Homo sapiens: one gene and its partners. The protein of the gene in region 1 purifies or fractionates together with the protein of each later gene. This does not show direct contact. Each region holds a gene or a part of one and is shown in the gene's direction. Other genes may lie near its edges.

Region 1 (3,500 bases):
CCAAACTCCATCTCAAAAAAAAAATTTGTTTTTAATCTGTGAGCCTTTCTCATAAGTAAATTAAGGAAATTAGACTAATTTTTGTGGGCTCTTCTATAACTTTTAAATTATATGGTTATTCTAAGACCATTGGTCAACACATAAAATCTTAAAATGATAGTACTATGCAAACCCAAAGGAAAATAATTCATTCTGTCAAAGATACGTTATATGTTCATTGCAGTGCTATTCACAGTAGCAAAGACAGAATCAACCTAGGTGCCCATCATCAATGGACTGGATAAAGAAAATGAACATATGTACTAAGGAATACTATGCAGCCATAAGAAAGAACAAAATCATGCTCTTTGCAGCAACATGGATGGCACTCTAGGCCGTTATCCTAATAAAACTAATGCAAGAACAGAAAACCAAAGCCCCATGTTCTAACTTACAAGTGGGAGCTAAACTTTGGGTACTCACAGACATCAGATGGGAATAATAGACACTGGGGACTACTAGATGGGGGAGGGATGGGATGTGGCCTGGGCTGAAGAACCACCTGTTGGGTACTATGCCCACTGCATGGGTGCTGGGGTTGTTAGGACCCCAAACCCCAGCATTACACAATATACCCACGTAACAAACCTACACATATACCCTTTAATCGATAAAGAAAGTTGAAATTATTTTTTAAAAAAGAAGAAATTACCAGGCCAAAAAAAAAAATCTATATACTGCTGATGATACTCACTATTAACGTATTACATCAGATTTTTTGCCTCAGATGCTCCTAGAACTTGTACTAAATCTGGATATCTATCCTTTGACTAGGTGCCTCATTAGATTTCATGCAGTTTCAAATTTTAGATTTCAAATTATAATTCTGATTTGATGGATGGATCCCAGGTTGTCCTTTTTGCTTTATGTTTTTATGTAAAGAGGCAACAGTTCAGCAATAATTTATATTTATTTTGAATGTAATTTATTTTTATGTATCAACTTTGCCTTTTCAATACTTTTTTTTTTTTAAGAGACAGGGTCTCACTGTGTTGCTCAGGCTAGACTCAAACTCCTAGGCTCAAGCCATCCTGCCACCTCAGCCTCCCAAGTAGCTGGGACTTGGGTCCCAGTTACACAGGTGTACGCTACTGCTCCTGGCAGCTTCTGAATATTTTGCTTAAGCAGATGTTAATTACTTTCCCTGAAGAGATAAGATTTGACCATAACGTTCATATATAAATAATCAAGGGTTGAACACCAGGCAAAATCTCATTATAGTATTGGATATCTCAGTTGTTTTCATGTTGTGATTTTTGGAAGGATACAGTTCTAGAATCTTAGCTGGCCTCCTTTCACTCAAAATGAAAAAACTAAGTGCTGTGATGAGAAATAGGCAATGAGATCATAACATTGACCTTATGTCAGTTTCTGTGTCCAAACTCTCAAGACTTTGTGTTGTTTTTCTTTGTTTTGTGATTACTAAAGACCCACTGTGTATCCAATACTGATCACTCAGTAGAAATACAGGTATAAAAATGAAAGACATTGTCCTTAGGAACTTAGAATATAACTTGGGGAGAAAGGACTTACACACATTAAGGAACTATAAGAAAAGAAAAAAAAATGACAACTTAATCAAACTCTGAGTAGTGTAGTGTAGTATTAACAACAATGAAATGTATGAAGTGACTAGCCCCAGATTGACAGATGGCTTCCTACAGGAGACGAAATAGAGTGTGGCTTGAAGTTGAAGAAGGTAGAAAGGAAGTTCTGATTCAGCAGTTTAATATGAAAATTACATAAGTGAAGGACCGTGAAAATAGAATAAATTATAAGAATTAAGATTGGATAGTCAGGTTGAAATAATGTGTCAGGATTTATACTTGAGATAAATATATAGTTATAAAAGTATTTGGCTTGTAATTTTTAAGAGCATGCTAACTTTGTATGTGTATGTTGCAGGAAAGAGAAAAAGTAATGAAATGATCACAAATTTAGGCAAGAAGCAAAAGACTGATGTCAGTACTGAACATCCTCCCTTTTATTACAACATTCACAGACACAGCATTAAAGGAATGAATATGCCAAAGTAAGACACCCAGTGAATGACAAAGTATATATATTTTATATTTTAATAATATTGTGATTTAAATAAAAATACAAGAACCTGATTATTTTTTCTTTCCTTTCCTTTTTGCAGGTTAAAAAAGTTTTTGTGCTATTTATCTCAAGCAGGCTTTCGAGTAAGCCGAACTCATTTTGACCCAATGGGTGTACGCACAGATGCACCTCTGATGCAGTTTAAATCTATCCTTTTAAAGTACAGCACCCCCACCTACACTGGAGGACAGTCAGAAAGCCATGTCCAGTCAGCATCTGAAGATACAGTAACTGAAAGAGTTGAAATGTCAGTGAATGACAAAGCAGAAGCAAGTGGCTGCAGAAGATGGTAAACGTAGAGAAGAATTGGTTCTCAGGTGTCTGTATAGATGGCCTAATAGTTCTCTATACCAACTGTAGTTCTTTTTCTGTTCTTTCAATTCAGTAGAGTAAAAATAAAAAACAGTGTCATTTTCATTCAGAAACTGAGCAGTTTCTAACTTAGCTGGTTTGGGAGCTTTGCTTTCCAAGTTTTTTTTTGTTTTAAGGCAAACTTAAAATTTTAATGGAAACATTTCATATGAAGCCAAGTCTCACTGAGATCACCCTACTGCTTAATAATTCAGAAAATTTTCACATGCAAAGTGTTTGGAATTTTATGTATGTTATGAAAGCCATCTTTTACAATTCTTAATCACATCTCTGCCTAAACTGATTCATGATGTTTATGTTTTCCTGTTTGTAGTGTACAAAATGAAGCTGAAGGCTCACATGTTAAAATGACCCTGAATAGAATAGGAAGAACAATGTTCTTACAGGTCATAATGTATTTCACAATTAAAAAACTAAAATATGTACCCATTTTTAAGAAATCATACTTCTCTCCACATTGATCTTTTCATTTCTTACTAGCTTTTAAGAAATTAAATACTTGCCTGAGATAGAAATACTTTATTTTTGTAACTTTAAGGTCTAAATGACTAAACTTCAAAGTAAGATTTTGTCAGAATAAATTGAGACCATTAATCTAATATAATACTTGTTCATGAGCACTGAAATCCTGAAGAGGAGAGATTTGGTTATAAATTAAAAAGGTTGGGTGATCTTAAGTGCCTCAGTTAATGCACGTACAGTATTCATTTGGTTGGTTGTACTACCTCTCAGAAGTAAAATTTGTCACCTTATGGAATGAGAGTTTTTGGGTTTGGGGGTTGTTTTTTTGTTGTTGCTTGGTTTGGTATTTTTGGTTTTGTGTGTATTTGTATAAATTTTCTGTATAATTAGCCCAGGCTGATGTAACTATAAAAATTAGTTGAAAAAAAAAATATTGTTTCCTTAATGGAATTCTCACTTCATTTGAATATAAGATTTTGGATGAAAGGATTTGGTATAAAGTTTGGGTTTTTGTCTCAAGGATT
Region 2 (3,500 bases), on another chromosome or scaffold:
AAAATGGCATATATTTATACCTGCCATTGCCAGTGACCTCCACCTTGCTAAATCGAATGGTCTGTTCTCAGTCTTTATTTTATCTCAGCTTGTAAACAGCATTGGACATGGTTGATCATTCTTTTCTCCTCAGTATGCTGTCTTCACTAGTTTTCCATGGACAGCTCAATCATTTGGTTCTCTTCTTTACTGGTGACTCCTTAGTCTCATTTGCTGGTTCCTCCTCTTCATCCAGTCTCTTAGTGTTCCTGAGGTTAGTCCTCAGTCCTCTTCTATTTACCCCTATGAGCTCATCCAGTCTCATGGCTTTAAGGACTCTAAAAAGCTAGACCTCCAAAATTTATGTATCTAGCCCAGACCTCTTCCCAGACCTACAGGCTTGTATATTTAATATTCGTCTCAATGTCAGCAGTTGAATATATAACAGGTTTTTCAAACTTAGCATGTCAGGTAGATTAGTAATAAAACAACACTTTTAAGTAATGTGCATCAGTGTAGAAATAGGGTGGAGAATGACATCAGAGCCTGGTCTTTTTAACTCTGGTAAAATAGTACTGCTTCATTTGGGGGACAGACTTTATTCTCAGCTCTGGGCCTGCTATATTTGATATTCCTTTAATAGGTTGGGCTCCTGGAATAAACTTTCTCATTTTTCCTTTTCCTTTTGTTCCTTTCTTTTAGACTTTAGATTTAATGTACAAATGAATTGGAGTGGCAGGAGACAGATCATTTTTTTCTAAAAGTAAAAATTCAGTTGTTTCTTTTCCCACCTGCATTGTTCATCATGTTAATGCCAGTTCTTTTTTAGGTATCATCTTTATCAGAAAGTGAGGAGTCCCAGGACTCATCCGACAGCATAGGCTCCTCACAGAAAGCCCACGGGATCCTAGCACGGCGCCCATCTTACAGGTGAGTACTCTCTTGTATGAAGCCCTGCATGTTATGATAGTACCAAATGAGTTCAAGAGGTGCTGTGCAAAGTACACTAAAGAAGTTAGCACGCGTCAGTGTTAAGAATGAAATTGGTTGGCCCTCGCCTATAATCCCAACCCTTTCGGAGGCCGAGGTAGGATTGCTTGAGCCCAGGAGTTCAAGACCAGCCTGGGCAACATGGCAAGACCCTGTCTCTTCAAAAAATACAAACCTTAGCTGGACATAGTGGCGCACGCCTGTAGTCCCATCTACTTAGAGGCTAAGGCGGGAAGATGGCTTGAGCCCAGGAGTTTGAAGTTACAATGATCTGTGATTGTGTCACTGTGCTCCAGCCTGGGTGATAGAGCAAGATCCTGTCTCCAAGAAAAAATGAAATTGGACCTTTGGCCGGATGCAGTGGCTTATGCCTGTAATCCCAGCACTTTGGGAGGCTGAGGCGGGCAGATCACCTGAGGTTAGGAGTTTGAGACCAGCCTGGCCAACATGGTGAAACCCCGTCTCTAATAAAAATAGAAAAATTAGCCGGGTGTGGTAGTGCACACCTGTAATCCCAGCTACTTGGGAGGCTGAGGCAGGAGAATCACTTGAACCTGGGAGGCGGAGGTTGCAGTGAGCCGAGATTGTGCCACTGCACTGCAGCCTGGGCAACAGAGCAAGACTCTGTCTCAAAAAAAAAAAAAAATGTAAATTTAATCTTTATCTTACACCATTACACAAATCAACACCAAATGGATAAGAGACCTAAATGTTAAGACCTGAAACCATAAAAATCCTAGAAGAGAACATAGGCGATAAGCTCTTCGACATTGACCTTGGCAATGATTTTTTGGATATCACACCAAAAGCTTAGGCTACAAAAAAATAAATAAATGGGACTACGTCAAACTAAAAAACGTGTCTGTGTAGCAAAGGAAACAAAGCAACAAAATGAAAAGGCAACTTACGGACTGGGAAAAAATTATTTGCAAACCACTTATCTGATAAGGGGTTAATACCCGTAACTGAAGACAAAATGAGAGAACCTGAGGATACAGCTCTGAGTAGATTACCTAGAATGGAACACAGAAAGACAAAGTTAAGATAGAACACAGAATGAGAAGGTCCAGTACACAACATACATAGATAAAAGGAGAGAAGAGGGAAGGGCACTTCCAGCTTCTAGTCTCTCCAGGAGAGAAAATGATAATGACTGCAATTTCCAGGATATGAATTTCTCAGCATAAGAAAGCAAGGTCCCAAACAAGATAAATTAATAGAAACCTACATCTAGGTGTATGTTGTAAAGTAAAACTGGAGAACACCAAGGATAAACCTGAGATCTTAAAAGCTAAAAGCTTCCAAGTGAAAAGACCAATTACCTAGAAAGGAAGGACCAGTAAGCTGACAACAGATTTTTGAAGTACAGTATAAGACAATGAACTAAAATCCTTATTTTTATCTTTAAATTATTACATGTTTTTTTGAGACGGAGGTCTCACCCTGTTGCCTGGGCTGGAGTGCAGTGGTGTGATCACAGCTCACTGCAGCCTCAACCTCCTGGGGTCAGCTCCTCAGCCTCCTGAGTACCTGGGACTATAGGCATATGCCATGATGCCCACCTAATTTTTTTTAATTTTTGGTAGAGATAGAGTCCCACTATGTTGACCAGGCTGGTGTCAAACTCTTGGGCTCAAGTGATCCTCCCACCTCAGCCTCCCAAAGTGTTGCTATTACAGGCATGAGCCACTGTACTCAGGCTCCAATATTTAAATTCAAAGAGAAAGTAACTTTTGACCTGGAATTCTGTGCCTACTGAACAGTCTTTCAAAAATGACGGTGAAATAATAATCATTTTCAAACTGATTTAAGAAACTACTTAAGGAGGCTGGGTACAGTGGCTCACGCCTGTAATCCCAGCACTTTGGGAGGCCGAGGCGGGTGGATCACTTGAGGTCAGGAGTTCGAAACGAGCCTGGCCAACATGGAGAAACCCTATCTCTACTAAAAATAAAAAAATTAGGTAGGCATGGTGGCACATGCGTGTAGTCCCAGCTTGAACCCAGGGGGCGGAGGCTGCAGTGAGCTGAGATCGTGCCACTGCACTCCAGCCTGGGTGACAGAGTGAGACTCCATCTCTAAAAAAAAAGAAAAAAGAAACTACTTAAGTGTATACTTCAGGAAGAAGAAAATGAAAGGAATATAAATGTGAGAAAGTATGGTGAACAAAGACAATTCATTTCAGTTAGCATTGGCTTTTTAGAACAATAGTAATAATGATTAATTTGGGTAGTTTCATGGTTGTTGTTTTTTTTTTGAGATGGAGTCTCGCTCTGTCATCCAGGCTGGAGTGCAGTGGAGTAATCTCGGCTCACTGCAAGCTCCGCCTCCTGGGTTCATGCCATTCTCCTGCCTCAGTCTTCCGAGTAGCTGGGACTACAGGCGCCCGCCACCACACCTGGCTAATTTTTTGTATTTTTTAGTAGAGACGGGGTTTCACTGTGTTAGCCATGATGGTCTCAATCTCCTGACCTCGTGATCTGCCCACCTTGGCCTCCCAAAGTGCTGGGATTACAGGCGTGAGTCACCAT
Region 3 (3,500 bases), on another chromosome or scaffold:
AAAAATTAGCCAGGTCTGGTGGTGTACACACCTGTAATCTCAGCTCCCTGGGAGGTGGAGGTGGAGGCAGGAGAATCGCTTGAACCCAGGAGGCCAAGAACACGCCGCTGCACTCCAGCTGGGTGACAGAGAGAGACCCCGTCTCAAAAAAAAAAAGTTGGAGGAAATTCTGTCTATTCAATTGGAAGATTTCTACTGCTGGCTTTTATTAGCCCCCACCCTCATCTGTCCTGAGTCTCTGTTTTCTTGGGAACCAGGTGGGAGGCATGGAGTGATCACAAGGACCTAGATTTGAATTAATTCTGGCTCTGGTCTCCTGGATGGGGACCTTGGGCGGGTACCTCTGCTTCTCTCGGCCTTGGTTTCCTCCTCTGTACAATGGGGTTAACCCTGCAGCTATAAAAGTCCTGTTGAGCACCATGCAGGGTGAACTGTGATTTTGTGGTGGGAACCAATTGCCATGCTTTGAGGCTGATGCCTGACCCCAGGCCCTGTTCCCACTGCTCCCTCTCCTGCAACCCCACAGCCTCACTCAGGGCTGTCACTGAGCCAGTGCTGAAGGGCTCAGCACCAGGTCATGCTGTGCCTTCACCTTTGCTCAGAGGAATATTTATTTGCCTGGGCCTTGGGAGCAGTTGCTTGACCTCTCTGAAACTCGGTTTCCCTATCTGTGCACACAGTATAATAACAGTAATAGAGCCTTCCTCCTTCATCAAATATCTGTGAGGAGTCAACGAGCAAGTCTGAGTGAAGCTGTGGTCTAGCGCCCCGCACGTGGGGAGTGCTCACAGATGATGGCCTTTGTGGCATGGGACCCTGACCCCCACTGGCCAAGTTTATCCCTCGACATTTGGTGCCAGCCCGTGTTCCCCACATCCTCCAAGCCTGGGACCTGCTGTACCCTGCCCCCGCCTGCCCCATACTGATCGGGGGCCCTGCTCTCAGTCTAGAGCAGCGCTCCTTTGTGACCACCTTTAGTTATTTATTTTTTAACATTTTTAAATGTTATATTGATTTGCAAATCGGGCAGCCTCCTCAGCTAGAGTTGGTGCAGAGACACCCCCCACCTTTTTTTTTTTAAAGCCTTTTTTTTTTTTTTTTTTTGAGACAGAGTCTTCTCTGTCACCCAGGCTGGAGTGCAGTGGCACCATCTTGGCTCACTGCAACCTCTCTGCCTCCCGGGTTGAAGCCATTCTCCTGTCTCAGCTTCCCGAGTAGCTGAGATTACAGGTGCCCACCACCACGCCTGGCTAATTTTTGTATTTTTAGTAGAAATGGGGTTTTGCCATGTTGGCCAGAATAGTCTTGAACTCCTGACCTCAGGCGATCCGCCCGCCTTGGCCTCCCAAAGTGCTGGGATTATAGGCATGAGCCACTGCGCCTGGCCTTTTTTTTTTTTTTAAACCTTTTTTGACATGTTTATCATTTATTTCATTTTTTTCTATTGTGGTAAAATATACATAACATGAAATTTACCAATTTAAACATTTTAAGTGTGTAAGTCAGTGGCATTAGGCACATTCATATTCTTATGCAACCTTCACCGCCATCCACCTCCAGAACTTTCATTTTTTTTAAGATGGAGTCTCGCTCTGTCGCCCAGGCTGGAGTGCAGTGGCGTGATCTCGGCTCACTGCAAGCTCCGCCGCCCGGGTTCACGCCATTCTCCTGCCTCAGCCTCCCGAGTAGCTGGGACTACAGGTGCCCGCCACCACGCCCGGCTAATTTTTTTTTGTATCTTTAGTTGAGACGGGGTTTCATCATGTTAGCCAGGATGGTCTCGATCTCCTGACCTCGTGATCCGCCCGCCTTGGGCTCCCAAAGTGCTGGGATTACAGGCGTGAGCCACCGCGCCCGGCCCACCTCCAGAACTTTTTCACGGGGCAGATATGGTGGCTCATGCCTGTAGTCCCAGCACTTTGGGAGTCTGAGGCGGGCGGATCACGAGGTCAGGAGTTCGAGACCAGCCTGGGCAACATGCTAAAACCCTGTCTCTAAAAAATGCAAGAGTTTTACTCTGTCGCCCACGCTGCAGTGCAGTGGTGCAGTCTCGGCTCACTGCAACCTCTGCCTCCCGGGTTCAAGCAATTCTGCCTCAGCCTCCCGAGTAGCTGGGATTACAGGCATGCACCACCATGCTCGGCTAATTTTGTATTTTTAGTAGAGATGGGGTTTCTCCATGTTGATCAGGCTTGTCCTGAACTCCCGACCTCAGGGGATCATCCTGCCTTGGCCTCCCAAAGTGCTGGGATTACAGGCGTGAGCCACAGCGCCCGGCCTGCTCAGCTAATAATTTTTGTATTTTTAGTAGAGACTGGGTTTTGCCATGTTGGCCAGGCTGGTCTCAAACTCCTGGCTTCAAGTGATCCGCCCGCCTCGGCCTCCCAAAGTTCTGGGATTACAGGCGTGAGCCACTGCGCCCAGCTTCCTTCCTCTTCTTGATGGTCCTTTAGACTCATCCTTTCTGACTTTCCAGGCATCCCCTCTGCAGGCTACACATCCCTAGACCTCCAGGTGGGGCTCTTGTGAGATGAACTGCAGATCCAGCACTCTCCTGGCTGACCAGCCTGTTGCTCTGTGTCCTTCTGTTTTTTCACTGAGATATAATTCACATACCACAAAATTCACCCTTTCAAAGCATACAATTTAGTGGCTTTGTATATTAAGAGTTGTGCAACCATCACCACTATCTTTTTTTTTTAATTACATTATCACCATTTTGCAACTCCTTATGAAGACAGATCTCATCAATGATCATTAACTTTTTAGCTTCCCCCAAAGAGAGACAAACAAGCATTATATAGTTCCTGGTGGAAGAACTCAACACCGATTATGAGGCAGTTCTGTTGCTAAACGCTAGGAGTTGAATCTGTTAAAAATTCTAGATGCAAGTTCCAGTTTGGAGGAACTATAGGAATGGAGGAATACAGTGACTGGCACCACAGGCCTCCAGGGGTTATGGTAAGTAGGCAGATATGAGCAGGGCAGGAGAGGGCCCCCTCCCACCAGGAACAACACCCTCATCAGCTAAGCCATCACCACTATCTAATTCCACAATTTTTTTTTTTTTTTTTTTTTGACAGAGTTTCACTCTTGTTGCCCAGGCTGGAGTGCAATGGCGCAGTCTCAGCTCACTGTAACCTCTGCCTCCTGGTTTCAAGCAATTCTCATGCCTCAGCCTCCCAAGTAGCTGGGATTATAGGCACCCAATACCACGCCTGGCTAATTTTTGTATTTTTTTAGTAGAGACGGGGTTTCACTATGTCGGCCAGGATGGTCTTGAACTGCTGACCTCAGGTGATCCGCCCGCCTCGACCTCCCAAAGTGCTGGGATTACAGACTTGAGCCACCGTGCGCGGGGCCATTCCACAGCGTTTTTATCACCCTACAAAGAAACCCCGCCCAGTAGCAGTCACTGCTAATCCTGTCCTTCACCCAGCCTCTGGCAGCCACTTAACTGCTTTCTGTCTCTATGGATGTGGTTCTGGACACTGTACATG
Region 4 (3,500 bases), on another chromosome or scaffold:
GATCTCAAAATATTAGTAAAATAAGTTAAATTGTTTTGAAAGGAAGGAAATGTGATAATGTAGAAATGGGGAAAAAACAAGACAGAATTGAAATATTATATTAATCAAGTACTAACCCTGGTTTGAATGGGTAAATGCAGAAGACCTTTCTTCCTTCTTTTTTTATTTATTTATCTTTTTTTTCAAAATTATACTTTAAGTTCTAGGGTACATGTGCACAACGTGCAAGTTTGTTACATATGTATACATGTGCCATGAGGAACAAATCTTAATGGGGTTTAAAAATCTTTTCTTGGCCAGGTGTGGCGGCTCATGCCTGTAATCCCAGCACTTTGGGAGGCTGAGGTGGGTGGATCACCTGAGGTTGGGAGTTCTAACCAGCCTGACCAACATGGAGAAACCCCATCTCTACTAAAAATACAAAATTAGCTGGGCGTGCTGGCACATGCCTGTAATCCCAACTACTAGGGAGGCTGAGGCAGGAGAATCGCTTGAACCTGGGAGACGGAGGTTGCGGTGAGCCAAGATCGCGCCCTTGCGCTCCAGCCTGGACAACAAGAGCAAAACTCTGTCTCAAAAAAAAAAAAAAATCTTTTCTTGGAGTCCCAGTTTGTATGACATATCGCATCAACCCCACTCCCAGAATTCAGACCAAATTGGATGAAAAGTAGGGTTGACAAGTTAAAGTACTTTTTATAAAGTTGATCAGTGAAGTCTTTTGACATTTGTGTTTGCTTGAGGCAAAAGTGGCTTGATCATCTTCTGTGAGTTCTTGTAGTTTCCAGTTCCTTTTCTTGGTCTGGAATGAGTTCAACCTTTTAAAATTGAAAACGTCATACATCAAGAGTTTACATGAGAAGAAAACTAGCCCGTTTTTTTTTTATTGGTTTGTTTTTTTTTGAGATGGAGTTTCACTCTTGTGAGTTCATGCTGGAGTGCAATGGTGCAATCTCGGCTCACCGCAACCTCTGCCTTCGGGTTCAAGTGATTCCTCCTGCCTCAGCCTCCACAGTAGCTGGGATTACAGGCATCTGCCACCACACCTGGCTAGTTTTGTATTTTTAGTAGAGACGTGGTTTCTCCATGTTGATCAGGCTGGTCTCGAACTCCCAACCTCAGGTGATCCATCCACCTCGACCTCTCAAAGTTCTGGGATTACAGGTGTGAGTCACCGTGCCTGGCCAATTTTGTATTTTTAGTAGAGATGGGGTTTCACTCTATTGGCCAGGCTGGTCTTGAACTCCTGACCTCAGGTGATCCTCCTGCTTTGGCTGCCCAAAGTGCTAGCATTTCAGGTGTGAGCCACCGTGCCTGGCCTATGTATACATTTTTGAATTGACTTGTTGATATCTGGAACAAATCCTGCTGAGATTCTGATTGGGATTGCCTTACATCTATAGGTCAGTTTTGGGGGAGAATTGACATCTTGACAATATTAATAATTCAAGATCGGACGGGCACGGTGGCTCACACCTATAATCCCAGCACTTTGGGAGGCTGAGGCAGGTGGATCACGAGGTCAGGAGTTCAAGACCATCCTGGCCAACATGGTGAAACCCCGTCTCTACTAAAAATACAAAAAATTAGCCGGGTGTGGTGACGGGGGCGCCTGTAGTCCCAGCTACTCGGGAGGCTGAGGCAGGAGAATCACTTGAACCTGGGAGATGGAGGTTGCAGTGAGCCGAGATTGCGCCACTGCACTCCAGCCTGGCGACAGAGCGAGACTGTCTCAAAAAAAAATTTAATAATAATAATAATTTAAGATCAGTCAAAGGTTAAAAAAAAACAACCCGCCAATACTGAACCTTCTAGTCCATGAAAACAGTGTAGCATACAGGTTCTGCACAAATTTTTTTAGATTTATACCTATTTCATAATTTTGCGTGCTATTGTAAATGGTGCTCATTTCTAGTTGTTGATTGCTGATATAGAAGTACAGCTGACTTTATATTGATCTTATGCCCTCCAGCCTTGATAAATCCACTTATTAGTTCTAGGAACTTTTTTAGTGTATTCTTTAGGATTTTCTGTGCAGAAAGTCGTGGTATTTGCAAACAGAGTTTTACTTCTTTCTCATCTGTATGGCTTTTCCTTCTTTTTCTTATTTCATTGCCCTGGCTGGGGCCTCCAGGATGATGTTGAGTAGGAGTGGTGAGAGCAGACATCCTCATCTTGTCCCTGATATTAAGGGAAAACAGTCAGTCCTTCACCATTAAGTATGATGCTAGTTTAGGTTTTCCATGAATGTCTTTTACCAGGTTTAGGAAGTTCAGATTGCTGAGATTGGATGTTGAATGTTGTCACTTGCTTTTTCTATATCTATAAAGCTAAAAAGATTTGTAGCCTTTTGGCTGTATCTTTTTGTTTATTTTTGTTTTTAGTAGTTACTGAAGGGATCCCTACTAGGTTACTAGTAGGGTTAATAATATGCATGCCTGACCATTTATAGTCCAGAGTTAATATTTTACCAGTTGGTGTATATAAGTCTCTTTACCTTCTTTTTGTGTTATGGTTGTATTTATAACATATAATCTACATACATTGAAACATATAATCTGCATACTATTAGTAGTGTTTTTACATTGACTTTCTGTATTCTTACATATTTTAAAGAACTTAAGAGAACAAAAATAGTCTTTTTGTCATCATTTCTTTTCCTCTCTATTCCTGAAGTGCCCTGCGTCCTTTTTATCATTTACTTCACCAGGAAGAACTGCCTTTGGCACTTTTCTGAGAACAGGTCTCTTGGCTACAAATTCTCTTATTTTCATTTAGCTGAGAATGTCATTATTTCCTTTCATTCCTGAAGGATAATTTCACTGGGTTGATTGATCTTTTCCTTCAGAACTTTTAAGATGTCATTTCAGTGACTTCTGGCTGTCACAGTTTTTGATTAGAAATCTGTGATCAGGCTGGATGCAGTGGCTCATGCCTATTATCTCAGCACTTTGGGAGGCTGAGGCGGGAAGATCACTTGAGGCCAGGAGTTTGAGACCAGCTTGGGCATCATTGTGAGACTCCATCTCTATATTTTGAAAAATAATTAATTAAAAAAAAATTTTAATCCGCTATCACTCTAACCCTAATGTGTCATTTTCCTCTGGCTGCTGTTAAGATTTTTTTTATCCCCCTCTACTCCTACTGCTTCACTTCACTAGCCTGGGCGCGGTGGCTCACGCCTGTAATCCCAGCACTTTGGGAGGCCGAGGCTGGCAGATCACGAGGTCAGGAGATCGAGACCATCCTGGCTAACACGGTGAAACCTCGTCTCTACTAAAAAAAAAAAAAAAAAAAAAAATCAGCTGGGCATGGTGGCGGGCGCCTGTAGTCCCAGCTACTCGGGAGGCTGAGATAGGAGAATGGCGTGAACCCGGGAGGCAGAGCTTGCAGTGAGCCAAGATGCGCCACTGCACTCCGGCCTGGGGGACAGAGCGAGACTCCGTCTCAAAAAAAAAAAAAAATTTAAATAAATTTCAAAAAAGATTTTCAAGTCTTTGGTC
Region 5 (3,500 bases), about 48 Mb from region 1:
CTTTCTTTCCCTGTTGTCCCTCTGTTTTCCTCTCAGTCAGATATTGCTTCTCCCCAACCCCTACCCTTAGTTTCTTTGAGTCAGTGGTAGCTGTGCTCTTGGCTGAGCTCTGCTCACACACCTCACTCCCCACCCCCAGTTTAAAAGCTCCCTGGCCCTGCAAGTGCCAAGTGAACAAGTCAGGCAGGCAGGGCCACTCCTATCAGGGGGAGTGGAGAGTGAGTACCCGTGAGCACCTTCCTCATGATCATTTTAATCACTGAGTGAAATGTCACCTTGGCCCACTGGCAGTATCCACATGTTGCCACCAAAGAATCCTGGAGTATCCACATGTTGCCACCAAGAATCCTGGAGTGTGGTGGTAAACAGCCATTAGGGTTAGACCAGCCAGACTTGGAAAAATGTATGCGCTTCTTTATTGATTTATTTATTCCTTCATTTGGTCAATAGTGATTGAGCACCTACTGTATGCTAGGTGTCATTCTAAGTCTTGGGATACTGTGGTGAACGAGACTGACCAAGGCGCTGCTTTCATGGAGCTTACATTCTAATGGAGGAGCTGAATACCAAAAATGTGAACAGATAAGTTAAGCAATTTCAGATACTGATAAAGGCAAAAATAAAGAAACCAGGCAATGTGGTAGTTGGGGGCAGGAGTAGCAAGGGCGATCAGGGAAGGTCTCTTCAAGGAGGTGACATTTGAGAGCCCTGAAAAGTCTGTGGGGTTCTTCAGAGTTTCATGTCGTCTTCTCTTATTTTACATTTTTGGTTGTGATTATAGAGTTTCCATGGAAATCAAGGCAATGAATAGTGAAAGATCATGAAAGAAAATTAGTTTTGAGGTCAGATAGCTTCTAGGCTGGAAGACCGGGAAATTGCTAGTGTTAGACTCCAGGGATTGGCTAGTTCCACAAACTAATCTAATCTAACAGTCCTAAGGAAGGATTGAAAGGAGCTGACTGTGATGCCCAGAAACAGACTTTGTGTCTTAGGATCATACCACATTTCTTCCGCTCTCTGAGACTCAAAATTATTCTCCAGGCAAGATAATCATTGCTTCTAATGATCTGTAAATAAAACAATTAGCTTTGAGTTAATTAAGTAAGAGATAGGGGCTGACATACCCTGTTTTTTTTTGTTGTTGTTGCTTTGGGGTTTGTGTGGTCCTTCTGTTTCAGTTTTATTTTATTTTTTATTTAACTTATTTTTTTGAGGGGGAGGGACAGAGTCTTGCTCTGTTGCCCAGAGTAATCTGTGCTGGGATTACAGGTGTGAGCCACTGTGCCTGGCCTTTTCCAGTTTTATAAATCAAGAACCTCATTTTCTTTTTTTCTGAGACAAGGTTAGTCTCTGTGGCCCATGCTGGAGTGCAGTGGCATGCTCTTGGCTCACTGCATCCTCTGCCTCCTAGGCTGAAGCCATCCTCCACCTCAGCCTCCCAAAAAGCTGGGACTACAGGCATGTGCCACCACACCTGACTCATTTGTGCATTTTTTGTAGAGATGGGGTTTCACCATGTTGCCCGGGGTTGATCTCGAATTGAAGAGCTGAAACAATCTGCCTGCCTCAGCCTCTCAAAGTGTTGGAATTATAGGCATGAGCCACTGTGCCTGGCCAAGAACCTCATTTTCTTTATCTGCAAACTTAGGTGTTGGATTAGATATATTTTTGGGTTCTTTCCATTGCTCACATGCAATAAAGTATCCGAATCCATTTTTGAGAGTGCCCTTCACATTCAGTACTTAGTCCATCGTTTAGGCACCTGTGAGGCATGATCTCTGCCCTCAAGAAAAACAGACCATGGGGCAATCAAAATCTAGGGGCAGGGAAGGGAGAGATCTATGTGAGCAGTGGTAGTGGAGAGGTGTCCAAAGGAAGGGGTTCTTGAGTTGGCTCTTGAAGGAGGAAATGGGAAAAAGAAGGGAGAACATTCCAGGTAAGAAAATGAGCTATGAAAAGGGGTCAGAGTCAGCGTCCCCTTGCTACCAGCTGAACATGCGTAGTGTGAAGATGAGACTGAGCCCGTGATATGGGGGAAATGTACCACACGAATTAGTAATATTATCTAGACTTATTCTTCACAATGTTGGGTGAACAGAGTACTTTCCAATGAATATGCATAGTGTGAAGATGAGACTGAGCTCATGATATGGGGGAAATATACCACACAAATTAGTAATATTATCTTGACTTATTCTTCATAACGTTGGGTGAACAGAGTACTTTCCAAAAACACCCGAGAACTCTTCCAGTTTTAGACAAGATAGAGTAGACACACTTGTGTTTATTTTTCCTGCTAAGGATGTTATTTATAATACAAGCATAAGAAGACCTGAAAAGTGAAGAGAAAAAGACAGACTGGCTAGGAACCTAAGGACCTAAGGAACAACACAACAGACACAACTGAAAATCATTTGTCATGCCAAGAATCAGGAATACCTAAACCTGAGTGAGGAAAGGCCATCAGCAGATCTCAACAGCAAGGTGACTCAGATAGTGGAATTATAGGGCAAGGATTTGAAAACAGCTATCATAAAAATGCTTCATAAAATTACAGATACACATGAAACAAATGAAAAATAGTCTCAGCAAGAACTGGAAAGTTTCAGCAAAAACCTAGAAGATAGAAGAATCAAATGAAAATTTTAGAACTATACAATAGCCAATAAAAAAGTCACTGAATGGGCTCATCAGCAGAATAGAGATGACAGGAGAAAGAATCAGTGAACTTGAAGGTAGAACAATAGAAATTACCTGACAAAGAGCAGACTTAAAAGAAAAAGTAATGAACAAAATGAACAGAGTTTCTGGGACCTGTGGGACTATAACAAAAGATGTGACATTCACATCATTGTAGTAACAGGAGATGAGTGTGGGGTTGAAAAAGTGTTTGAAGAAGTAATGGCTGCATTTTTGTCATATTTGGCAAAAGACATAAACCTACATTTTCAGTGAACCCCAAGAGGATAAACTCAAATTCATGCCAAGACATACCATAGTCAAACTTATGAAAATTAAAGTCTTGAAAGCAGTGAAAGGAAAGCAGCACCTTACCTATAGGGTAAAAACAATATGAGTGACAGCAGATTTCTCAGGAGAAACCATGAAGGCCAGAAGGAGGTGGTACATTTTCCAAGTGTTGAAACAACTGTCGACTCATAATTCTATAAGACATTCACAGATGAAGGAAAACTAAGAGAATTTGTCATAATAGAACTGCTCTAAAAGAATGGCCAAAGGAAGTTCTCTTATCAGAAAGGAAATGGTAAAAGGAGACCTGGAACATCAGGAAGGAAGAAAGAACAATGGGAAGAGTAAAACTCTGAGTGAGTGTAGTGGGCTTTTCTTCCTCTGTTGACTTTTGAAGAATTATGTTTGACAGTTGAGGCAAAACGATAACATTCTCTGATGTGTTAAAAAAAATAGCTGAAAAAAGAAAAGAAAGAACAGTACCTGAGAAGGAAAATAAAATCTCACTGATACAATCTTTGGCACCTCCT
Region 6 (4,039 bases), on another chromosome or scaffold:
GGGGGCCCCACCCGCCTCGGCCTCCCGAAGTGCTGGGATTACAGGGGTGAGCCACTGCGCCCAGCCAATGCTGTCTTTTAGGCAACAAAAAGAGAATTGATTATACTTTTGGTAATTAAGACCAACAAGTACAAAATGCATTGTGAAGGACGAAAATAGACAATCCTTACTGGAACTCCCCGGGACAGGCAGGGTAAGACCCATATTTCCTACCCTTCTTTGCACTTAGATGTGAACAATATTTATTAACTACTGGATTGTATACCATTGCTGCTATAACAAATTACTACAAATTCAGTAGTTAAAACAACACAGGTGTATTGTCTTACAGTGCTTAAGGTATTAAGTCTAAAATCAAAATTTGCAGGCTCTAGTTCCTTCCTGAGGTTTCAGGAGAGAATCCGTTTCCTCCTTTTGCAGCTTCTACCTGCACTCCTTGGCTCATTGCCTCTGACATCACTCCAACCTCTAGCTTCTGTGCTCACAGCTCCCACTACTGACTTTGAACTTCTTGTCTCCATCTTATAAGGACCTTTGTGATTCCATGGGGTTCACTGGATAATCCTGGTTAATCTTCCCATTTTGATCCTTAATCACATCAGCTAAATCCTGTCTGCCACATAAGGTGACATATTCACGTGTTGTGGGGACTAGGAGGTGCACATTTTTGGGGTGCCATCATCCTACCATACCTGAGAGTTCAACGAGAAGTTATTGTATTCAATATATTCTGCAGAGATCATTTTTACCTTAGATTGTTTTAACTACCCACCTCGTTTACCACTCGGCAAAGGTCTTTCCATTCTGAAACCAGCCTCTGGTCCACAGAACTAACTAGTGGTATGAACTGAAATTTGCTGATAGAAAATATCACAAACACACAGCCGCCGTTCTTTTTTATTCTTGGTTTGGTAGAGAATTACAAGATAATCAAGGCAGCTTTCCCTATTAACGCACGAGAACAACGGGGCCTACCCGCGCCGCCCTAGGCAGCCGGGAGCAGCAGTAACGCCTCTAGGGCGCCATGGCAACCACGCGGGCTGGACCGCCTTCTTCCGCGGCTCTTCTAGTGTGCGCGTCCCTGGCCCGGCCTCCACTCCGCCCGCGTGGAGCCCCGGCCTGGCCGCCTGCCCGCCGCGCTCTGTGACGCCCGCCGCGAGGGCCGCACGAGGCCCGGCGTGCGCCCCCGCCTCTCCCGAAGCGCCGGGCCCCACGCCGCCCCTCCTTTCCCTTTCCGCTCTCTCCGCCTCCGGAAGCGCGGGCGCGCGGCGCCGGGAGCCCGTTCAGGGCCGCGGGAGTGCGCCAGCGCCGCGCGTGGGGCTGTGGTGGCCGCGGCTCTCAGGTGAGGGGCGCGCGAGCGGCTCCTGGCTCCCTGCTCGCGGGGCGCCCGCCACGCTCCTTTCCGTTCGCATCCGTCTCCCCGCTCCGGAGCCCAGGCGGCGGCGAGTACTCGGGGTGGGTTTAACGAAGCCTGCGCGGACGGTGGGAGACCGCGCCCCCACGACAGGGGCGCCCGCGGCGGCGGGTCGCGGCGCCGTTCCACCCCGGTCCCCTGTGAGAATGGCGGGTCCCGCCCTCTCGCGCGTTCCGGGTGGCTTTGAGGGTCAGGATCAGCCCTAAATTGAGATTGGGCCGCGACCACATGCCGGGCCCTGACGACTTCTTCCTACTTGTAGGGACTCGAACCTAACCCACGAGGCCCGAGGGGTTATCTGCCTTCCGGGGACGGTAGGGGATGTAGACAAGAGCCTAGCGTTCCTGGAAACAGGTGTTTAATTTGGGCCGGGATTTTCATGTACCCAATTGGGCATCTTGTTGGAGGCCTACTGTGCTGTTTAACTACAGAAATGTATTGTCACAGTAACAAGATGACAGTTTAAAAAGTGCCCGGTGCTTTTCTGTGTATTTTCCTGATGTTTGGTGAAAGCATTAGTCTTGTTATTGCTGGTCTGTAGGACCTGGCAAGTGGGGCGTGCCCAGTGACTCTCAGGCAGCTTTGATAAAAACTTACCTGTCTCTTTTTTTTATTTTTATTTTTTGAGACAGGGTCTCGCTCTGTGGCCCAGGGTGGAGTGCAGTGGCACGATCATGTCTCACTGCAGCCTCCCAACTCCTGGGCTCAAGCGATCCTCCTGTCTTGGCCTCCCAAAGTCCGGGGATTACAGGCGTGAGCCATGCCCCTCCTGGCAAAACTCTGTCTTGATTGAGCACCAAAGGGTTGTTATGGTCTGATGAACTATCCTTTAATTTTATCCTTTCCTAGTCTGTTGTAAAGAGAATCTTAACTACTTTATTAAGTCATTTTTCTTATTCTCTGGTAAATTGAATCACTTACCTCGTAGTAAATGTTATCAAAAGAATTGCTCAGTGGATGGGATTGTTGGGTAAATTTTCCTGTAAATTAAGTCACATGAGTGTCGAAATCTTTACAGTAACTCTGTTGGATATTATTAACTAAAATTTAAACCTGAAAAGTCTCACAGGCACCGGACTATGCACCAGGGCGCATGAACTGTGACCACTTAGGGAGGCAGCTGGCTTCCAGCTCTTGGGGACTGCATGACCTTATCATGGAAATGCAGATAAAGGCATAGTTGTGGTTTGTGCTTCCGGAGGGGTGGGGGAAGATGGCAGGAAACTATCAAGGAAACTGGGTTGAAACCCGGTGATTTTTTTTGTTTGTTTGTTTTTTGAGATAGGATCTCACTCTGTTGCCTAGGCTGGAGTGCAGTGGCCTGATCTCGGCTCACTGCAGCCTCAGCTCCCAGGTTCCAGCGATTCTCCCACCTCAGCCTCCGGAGTAGCTGGGACTACAGGCGAGAGCTACAACGCCCGGCTAATTTTTGTATTTTTTGTAGAGGTGGGGTTTGGCCATGTTGGCCAGGCTGGTCTCAAGCTCCTGGGCTCAAGTGGTCTGCCTGCCTGGGCCTCCCAAAGTTACAGGCATGAGACTGTAACATGAGCCACCGCACATGAGCCTCCATGCCCAGCCACACACATACAAGGCGATTTTTCTACCCTCGTGGGTAGCAAAGAGCATGGCTCAATCTTAAATCTCCTAACTCCAAACTCCTTTGTGGGATAAACATTCTTTGAATGACTAAATTCATCAGGTTCTCCTTTGGGTACTGGGGTTATAAAGATGAGGAAGTGACGAGGAGCTCCCAGTCTGGCAAGGAGACAAGTGTAGGGGATGGGGGGAAAAACAAAAATCCTTTTTCCTTTAGCTGGGTCTGCAGCTGGGGCTGTAAGGCAGATTAACAGGAGAAAAGGCATACGTATTTTATGTTAATTTTTACAATGACACAGGGCTTTCCTAGAAAAGAAGTGGATAGGCCAGAAAGTTTCTATACGGTGTTTAAAAGATGATAAACTGTGGAGATACGACATGAAGAGATCATAAAACCAGGTGGAGGGTTAGACCTCTAGGGATTGAAACTATGGGACGGTAAATACAGGCATACCTTGGAGATATTTTGGTTGCTTGCAGACCACCACAATAAATTAAATCTTGGAATAAAGCGAGTCACATGAATTTTTTGGTTTCCCAGTGCATATAAAAGTTATGTTTACACTATACCGTGGTCTGTTAAGGGTACAATGGTATTATGCTTAAGAAATGTACATACGTTATCTAAAAAATAATTTATGGCTAAAAAATGCTGTCAATCATCTGAGCCTTCAGGGAGTTGTAATTTTTTTTTGCTGGTGGAGGGTCTTGCCTCACTGTTGATGGCGGCTGACTGATCAGGGTGCTGAGTGCTGAAGGTTGGGATGGCTGTGGCAATTTCTTAAAATAAGACAATGATTAACTTTGCTTTATTGATTGACTTCTTTTCACAAAAGATTTCTGTAGCTTGTGATGCTGCTTGACAGCATTTTATCCAGAGTAGAACTTTTTTTTTTTTTTTTTTGAGGCGGAGTCTTGCTCTGTCGCCTGGGCTGGAGTGCAGTGGTGTGATCTGGGCTCACTGCAACCTCCGCTTCCTGGGTTCAAGAGATTCTCCTGCCTCAGCCTCCCAAGTAGCTGGGATTACAG
Region 7 (3,500 bases), on another chromosome or scaffold:
TGCTAGGATTACAGGCCTGAGCCACCGCGCCCAGCCTTGTTTTTATTTTTTTTTTTGAGACGGAGTCTTGCTCTGTTGCCCAGGCTGGAATGCAGTGGCACAATCTTGCCTCACTGCAACCTCTGTCCCCCAGGTTCAAGCGATTCTCCTGTCTCAGCCTCCCGAGTAGCTGGGATTAGAGGTGCACGTCAACACACCCAGCTAATTTTTGTACTTTTAGTAAAGATGGGGTTTCATCATGTTGACCAGGCTGGTCTCGAACTCCTGACCTCAAGTGATCCACCCACCTTGGCCTCTCAAAGTACTGGGATTACTGTCGTGAGCCACTGCGCCTGGCCTCTCGTTGTCTTTTATCAGTTTTACGTGCTTGACGTGTAGGTATAGAGCCTGTCTGCAAAAGAAAATTACTGTATGTGAAGTCTGATAAAGTAACTGATTGGTATCTATCTACACCCCATCCCCGCCCCAACACACACAGAAATACAGGAGGATTGAGAAATGAATTTTGAGGAGTCATGTAAAGAAAGATAGAAGGTTAAATCTAAGTTGCTTGTAGCTAAGCAGGATTTTATATTTTGGGTGCAAGAATTTAAGAAGAAAGTAATGTGTTTAAATGCTTAGAAAGGAAGGATCAGAATGTAGGAAGTGGGACCAGCAGTAGTGAAACTAGTGAGGAAAAGTTTCCCTCAGCCCATATGGGCAATTTCCCTTGGTTCCTGTGGAGCATTTGGCTACAGACACAGAAGCAAAAGCATTTAATCAAAGTGTTTAAGAACTGGGTTTTTGGCTGGGTGTGGTGGCTCACACCTGTAATGTCAGCACTTTTGGGAGGTCAAGGTAGGGGGATCACTTGAGCCCAGGAGTTTGAGACTAGCCTGAGCAACATAGGGAGGCCCTGTCTCTACAAGTAATAAAAAGCATTAGACAGGTGTGATGGCACATGCCTGTGGTCCCAGCTACTTGGGAGGCTGAGGCAGGAGAACCGTCTGAGTTTGGGGGTCATGGCTGCAGTAAGCCATGGTTGTTTCACTGCACTCCAGTCTGGGTGACAGCGTAAGACTGTCTCAAAAGAAAAAAAAAAAAAAAAAGAAAAGAAATGAGTTTTGGGGCCTGGCACGGTGGCTCAAGCACTTTAGGACGCCGAGGCGGAATTATCACTTGAGGTCAGGAGTTTGAGACCAGCCTGGACAACATAGACCCTTTCTCTACCAAAAAAAAAAGGTTTGTTTGTTGGATTATTTTTTTTTTTTGGAGACAGAGTCTTGCTCTTTTACCCAGGATGGAGTGCAGTGGCGTAGTCAAGGCTTTCTGCAGCCTCAACCTTTCAGTCTCAAGCGAGCCCCCTACTTCAGCCCCCAAGTAGCTAGGACCACAGGTGCATACCACCATGTTTGGCAAATTTTTAAAACTCTTTTTGTAGACCCTGGGTCTCACTATTTTGTCCGGGCTGTTCTTGAACTCCTGGGATTACAGGCATGAGCCAGCTTGCCCGGCCAAAAAATATTTTTAAAATTAACTGGGCATGGTGGCATGCACCTGTAGTCCTAGTTACTCAGGAGGCTGAGGCAGGAGGATTGCTTGAGCCCAGGAGTTCAAAGCTGCATGAGCTGTGATGGCACCACTGCACAACTCTTGCTCTCTTCACCACTGTGAAAAGTCTTGCTCAGTTGCTCAGGCTGGAGTCTTAAAAAAAAAAATAATAAATGGGTTTTTAAGCATTAGTTTGCTCATTCATTTATCACTGAGAGGCATTATGCTACATAATGAAAATACAAAGAAAAGTAAATCCTAGTTTTTGCTCTTGAGAAACTCAGTCTGATAGAGAAGAAAATGTATGAAAAGTTATCATATACAAACCTGTGTGAATCAATATTTTGGGAATACAGGGGGAAATCAGTGAAGGCTTCAAAAAGGAACTGACTAAATTTAAAAGGTACTAATGTCCGTCTGACCCACAGGCACCTGTTTGTGAAGTTTAACAGTGGTTATGTTTTGGAGAGAAGGCAAGGGAGTATGTTCTTGTAGCATTGCAGCAAACCACATCTATGGATGGTGGATGATTTAATCAGTCTTTGAAAAGGGTTATGGCAGCTGTTTTCAATGTGATAAAGCTTAATTGTAATCATGAAGATTATTTTGGAAAGAACCCATTTTAGTGATAATCCAACGTAAGAAGCTACTCAGAAGCAATTGAAAGGATTAGGTTGACTGGAAAATTATAAAACTGCCTAAATGTTCATATCGAGGTGATGTTTCTGGGGAGAAACACACCATTTTGTAGCCTCATGACTCATCAGTACACATGGTATTTGTCTCACTGGGGAACTCACTGTCTAAGTGGAACAAGGTTTTCCTTTTTCTTTTTGTTCTTTTTTTTTTTTGAGGTGGAGTCTCGCTGTGTCACCCAGGCTGGAGTGCAGTGGTGCAGTCTTGGCTCACTGAAACCTCTGCCTCTGGGTTCAAGCGATTTTCCTGCCTCAGCCTCCCAAGTAGCTGGGATTACAGGCGTGTGCCACCACGCCCAGCTAATTTTTGTATTTTTAATAGAGACGGGGTTTCACCATTTTGCCCAGGCTGGATTTGAACTCTACTGGCCTCAAGTGATCTGCCTCTCTTGGCCTCCCAAAGTGCTGGGATTACAGCTGTGAGCCACCATGCCCAGTGAAACAGAGTTTTTCAAGCATTCTCTCTCTCTATCTCTAGTTTTGGTTGAAAGCTGTCATTCTCTGGTGTGAACCTGGGAGGTGGAGCTTGCAGTGAGCCGAGATTGCACCATTGCCCTCCAGCCTGGGTGACAGAGCAAGACTCCGTCTCAAAAAAGAAAGCTGTCATTCTCTGGTCCCATCCCTTCATCCCTCTCCTTATACCAAGATCATTGCTTTTCATTTATTGTACTGAGCTATAATGGGTATTTTCTCTATTAAAAATATTGCTTAATATTTAAAATGAGAATCAAAGATAAAATGTTTAGTTCAAAAAAAAGGCATACTTGTCACTTTACTAAATTGTAAAATTTTTAACTTCTTTTTAATCTGTATGCAGGCAATTTTTTTTCCATCACATAAAGGTCACTGAGATACTGTGTCATTTATTTAGACCCCAAATTTTGTTTTTACAGCATGATAGTAGTATTGTTACTTTGAAAGGATTGTTCTTGATTTCTTTTTGGGGTGTTTGTGCGTATTTCAGTACTTCCAGCGGCAATGTAAGCAACAGAAAGGATGAGACAAATGCTCGAGATACTTATGTTTCATCCTTTCCTCGGGCACCAAGCACTTCTGATTCTGTGCGGTTGAAGTGTAGGGAGATGCTTGCTGCAGCTCTTCGAACAGGGGGTAAGTCCAGTGCATGTTATTTCTCAGTCCTTTGGTCACCACCCACAACCACTGCCATCTCCAACTCCATATTGCTGTTTGATGAGTGTTACCCTGTGGATAGCCCACCCACTGCTGCTTAGCTTGGGGAGAAGTTGTTGCTGATACGGGTCTGTTAAGGGGGAG

What was found.
Region 2: the proteins of TRMT1L (region 1) and ATF1 purify together in Homo sapiens (co-immunoprecipitation; one large-scale study listed by IntAct). This does not show direct contact.
Region 3: the proteins of TRMT1L (region 1) and POLR3H purify together in Homo sapiens (affinity purification with mass spectrometry; one large-scale study listed by BioGRID and IntAct). This does not show direct contact.
Region 4: the proteins of TRMT1L (region 1) and CRCP purify together in Homo sapiens (affinity purification with mass spectrometry; one large-scale study listed by BioGRID and IntAct). This does not show direct contact.
Region 5: the proteins of TRMT1L (region 1) and NTPCR fractionate together in Homo sapiens (co-fractionation; one large-scale study listed by BioGRID). This does not show direct contact.
Region 6: the proteins of TRMT1L (region 1) and CFAP97 purify together in Homo sapiens (affinity purification with mass spectrometry; one large-scale study listed by BioGRID and IntAct). This does not show direct contact.
Region 7: the proteins of TRMT1L (region 1) and TCEA1 fractionate together in Homo sapiens (co-fractionation; one large-scale study listed by BioGRID). This does not show direct contact.

What each region holds. Positions count from the first base shown.
Region 1 is NC_000001.11:185,118,954-185,122,453, reverse strand, and holds part of TRMT1L (tRNA (guanine(27)-N(2))-dimethyltransferase), read left to right. Parts: intron 1-1,944; coding exon 1,945-2,071; intron 2,072-2,182; coding exon 2,183-2,435; 3' UTR 2,436-3,500. UniProt on the Homo sapiens protein: Specifically dimethylates a single guanine residue at position 27 of tRNA(Tyr) using S-adenosyl-L-methionine as donor of the methyl groups. Dimethylation at position 27 of tRNA(Tyr) is required for efficient translation of tyrosine codons.
Region 2 is NC_000012.12:50,795,101-50,798,600, forward strand, and holds part of ATF1 (cyclic AMP-dependent transcription factor ATF-1), read left to right. Parts: intron 1-797; exon of another isoform or gene 798-808; coding exon 809-909; intron 910-3,500.
Region 3 is NC_000022.11:41,534,471-41,537,970, reverse strand, and holds part of POLR3H (DNA-directed RNA polymerase III subunit RPC8), read left to right. Parts: intron 1-3,500.
Region 4 is NC_000007.14:66,135,347-66,138,846, forward strand, and holds part of CRCP (DNA-directed RNA polymerase III subunit RPC9), read left to right. Parts: intron 1-3,500. UniProt on the Homo sapiens protein: DNA-dependent RNA polymerase catalyzes the transcription of DNA into RNA using the four ribonucleoside triphosphates as substrates.
Region 5 is NC_000001.11:232,971,111-232,974,610, forward strand, and holds part of NTPCR (cancer-related nucleoside-triphosphatase), read left to right. Parts: intron 1-3,500. UniProt on the Homo sapiens protein: Has nucleotide phosphatase activity towards ATP, GTP, CTP, TTP and UTP. Hydrolyzes nucleoside diphosphates with lower efficiency.
Region 6 is NC_000004.12:185,201,201-185,205,239, reverse strand, and holds the start of CFAP97 (cilia- and flagella-associated protein 97), read left to right. Parts: upstream 1-1,239; 5' UTR 1,240-1,342; exon of another isoform or gene 1,343-1,768; intron 1,769-4,039.
Region 7 is NC_000008.11:53,987,949-53,991,448, reverse strand, and holds part of TCEA1 (transcription elongation factor A protein 1), read left to right. Parts: intron 1-3,189; coding exon 3,190-3,335; intron 3,336-3,500. Other genes in the region: LYPLA1-TCEA1 readthrough, read left to right, coding at 3,190-3,335.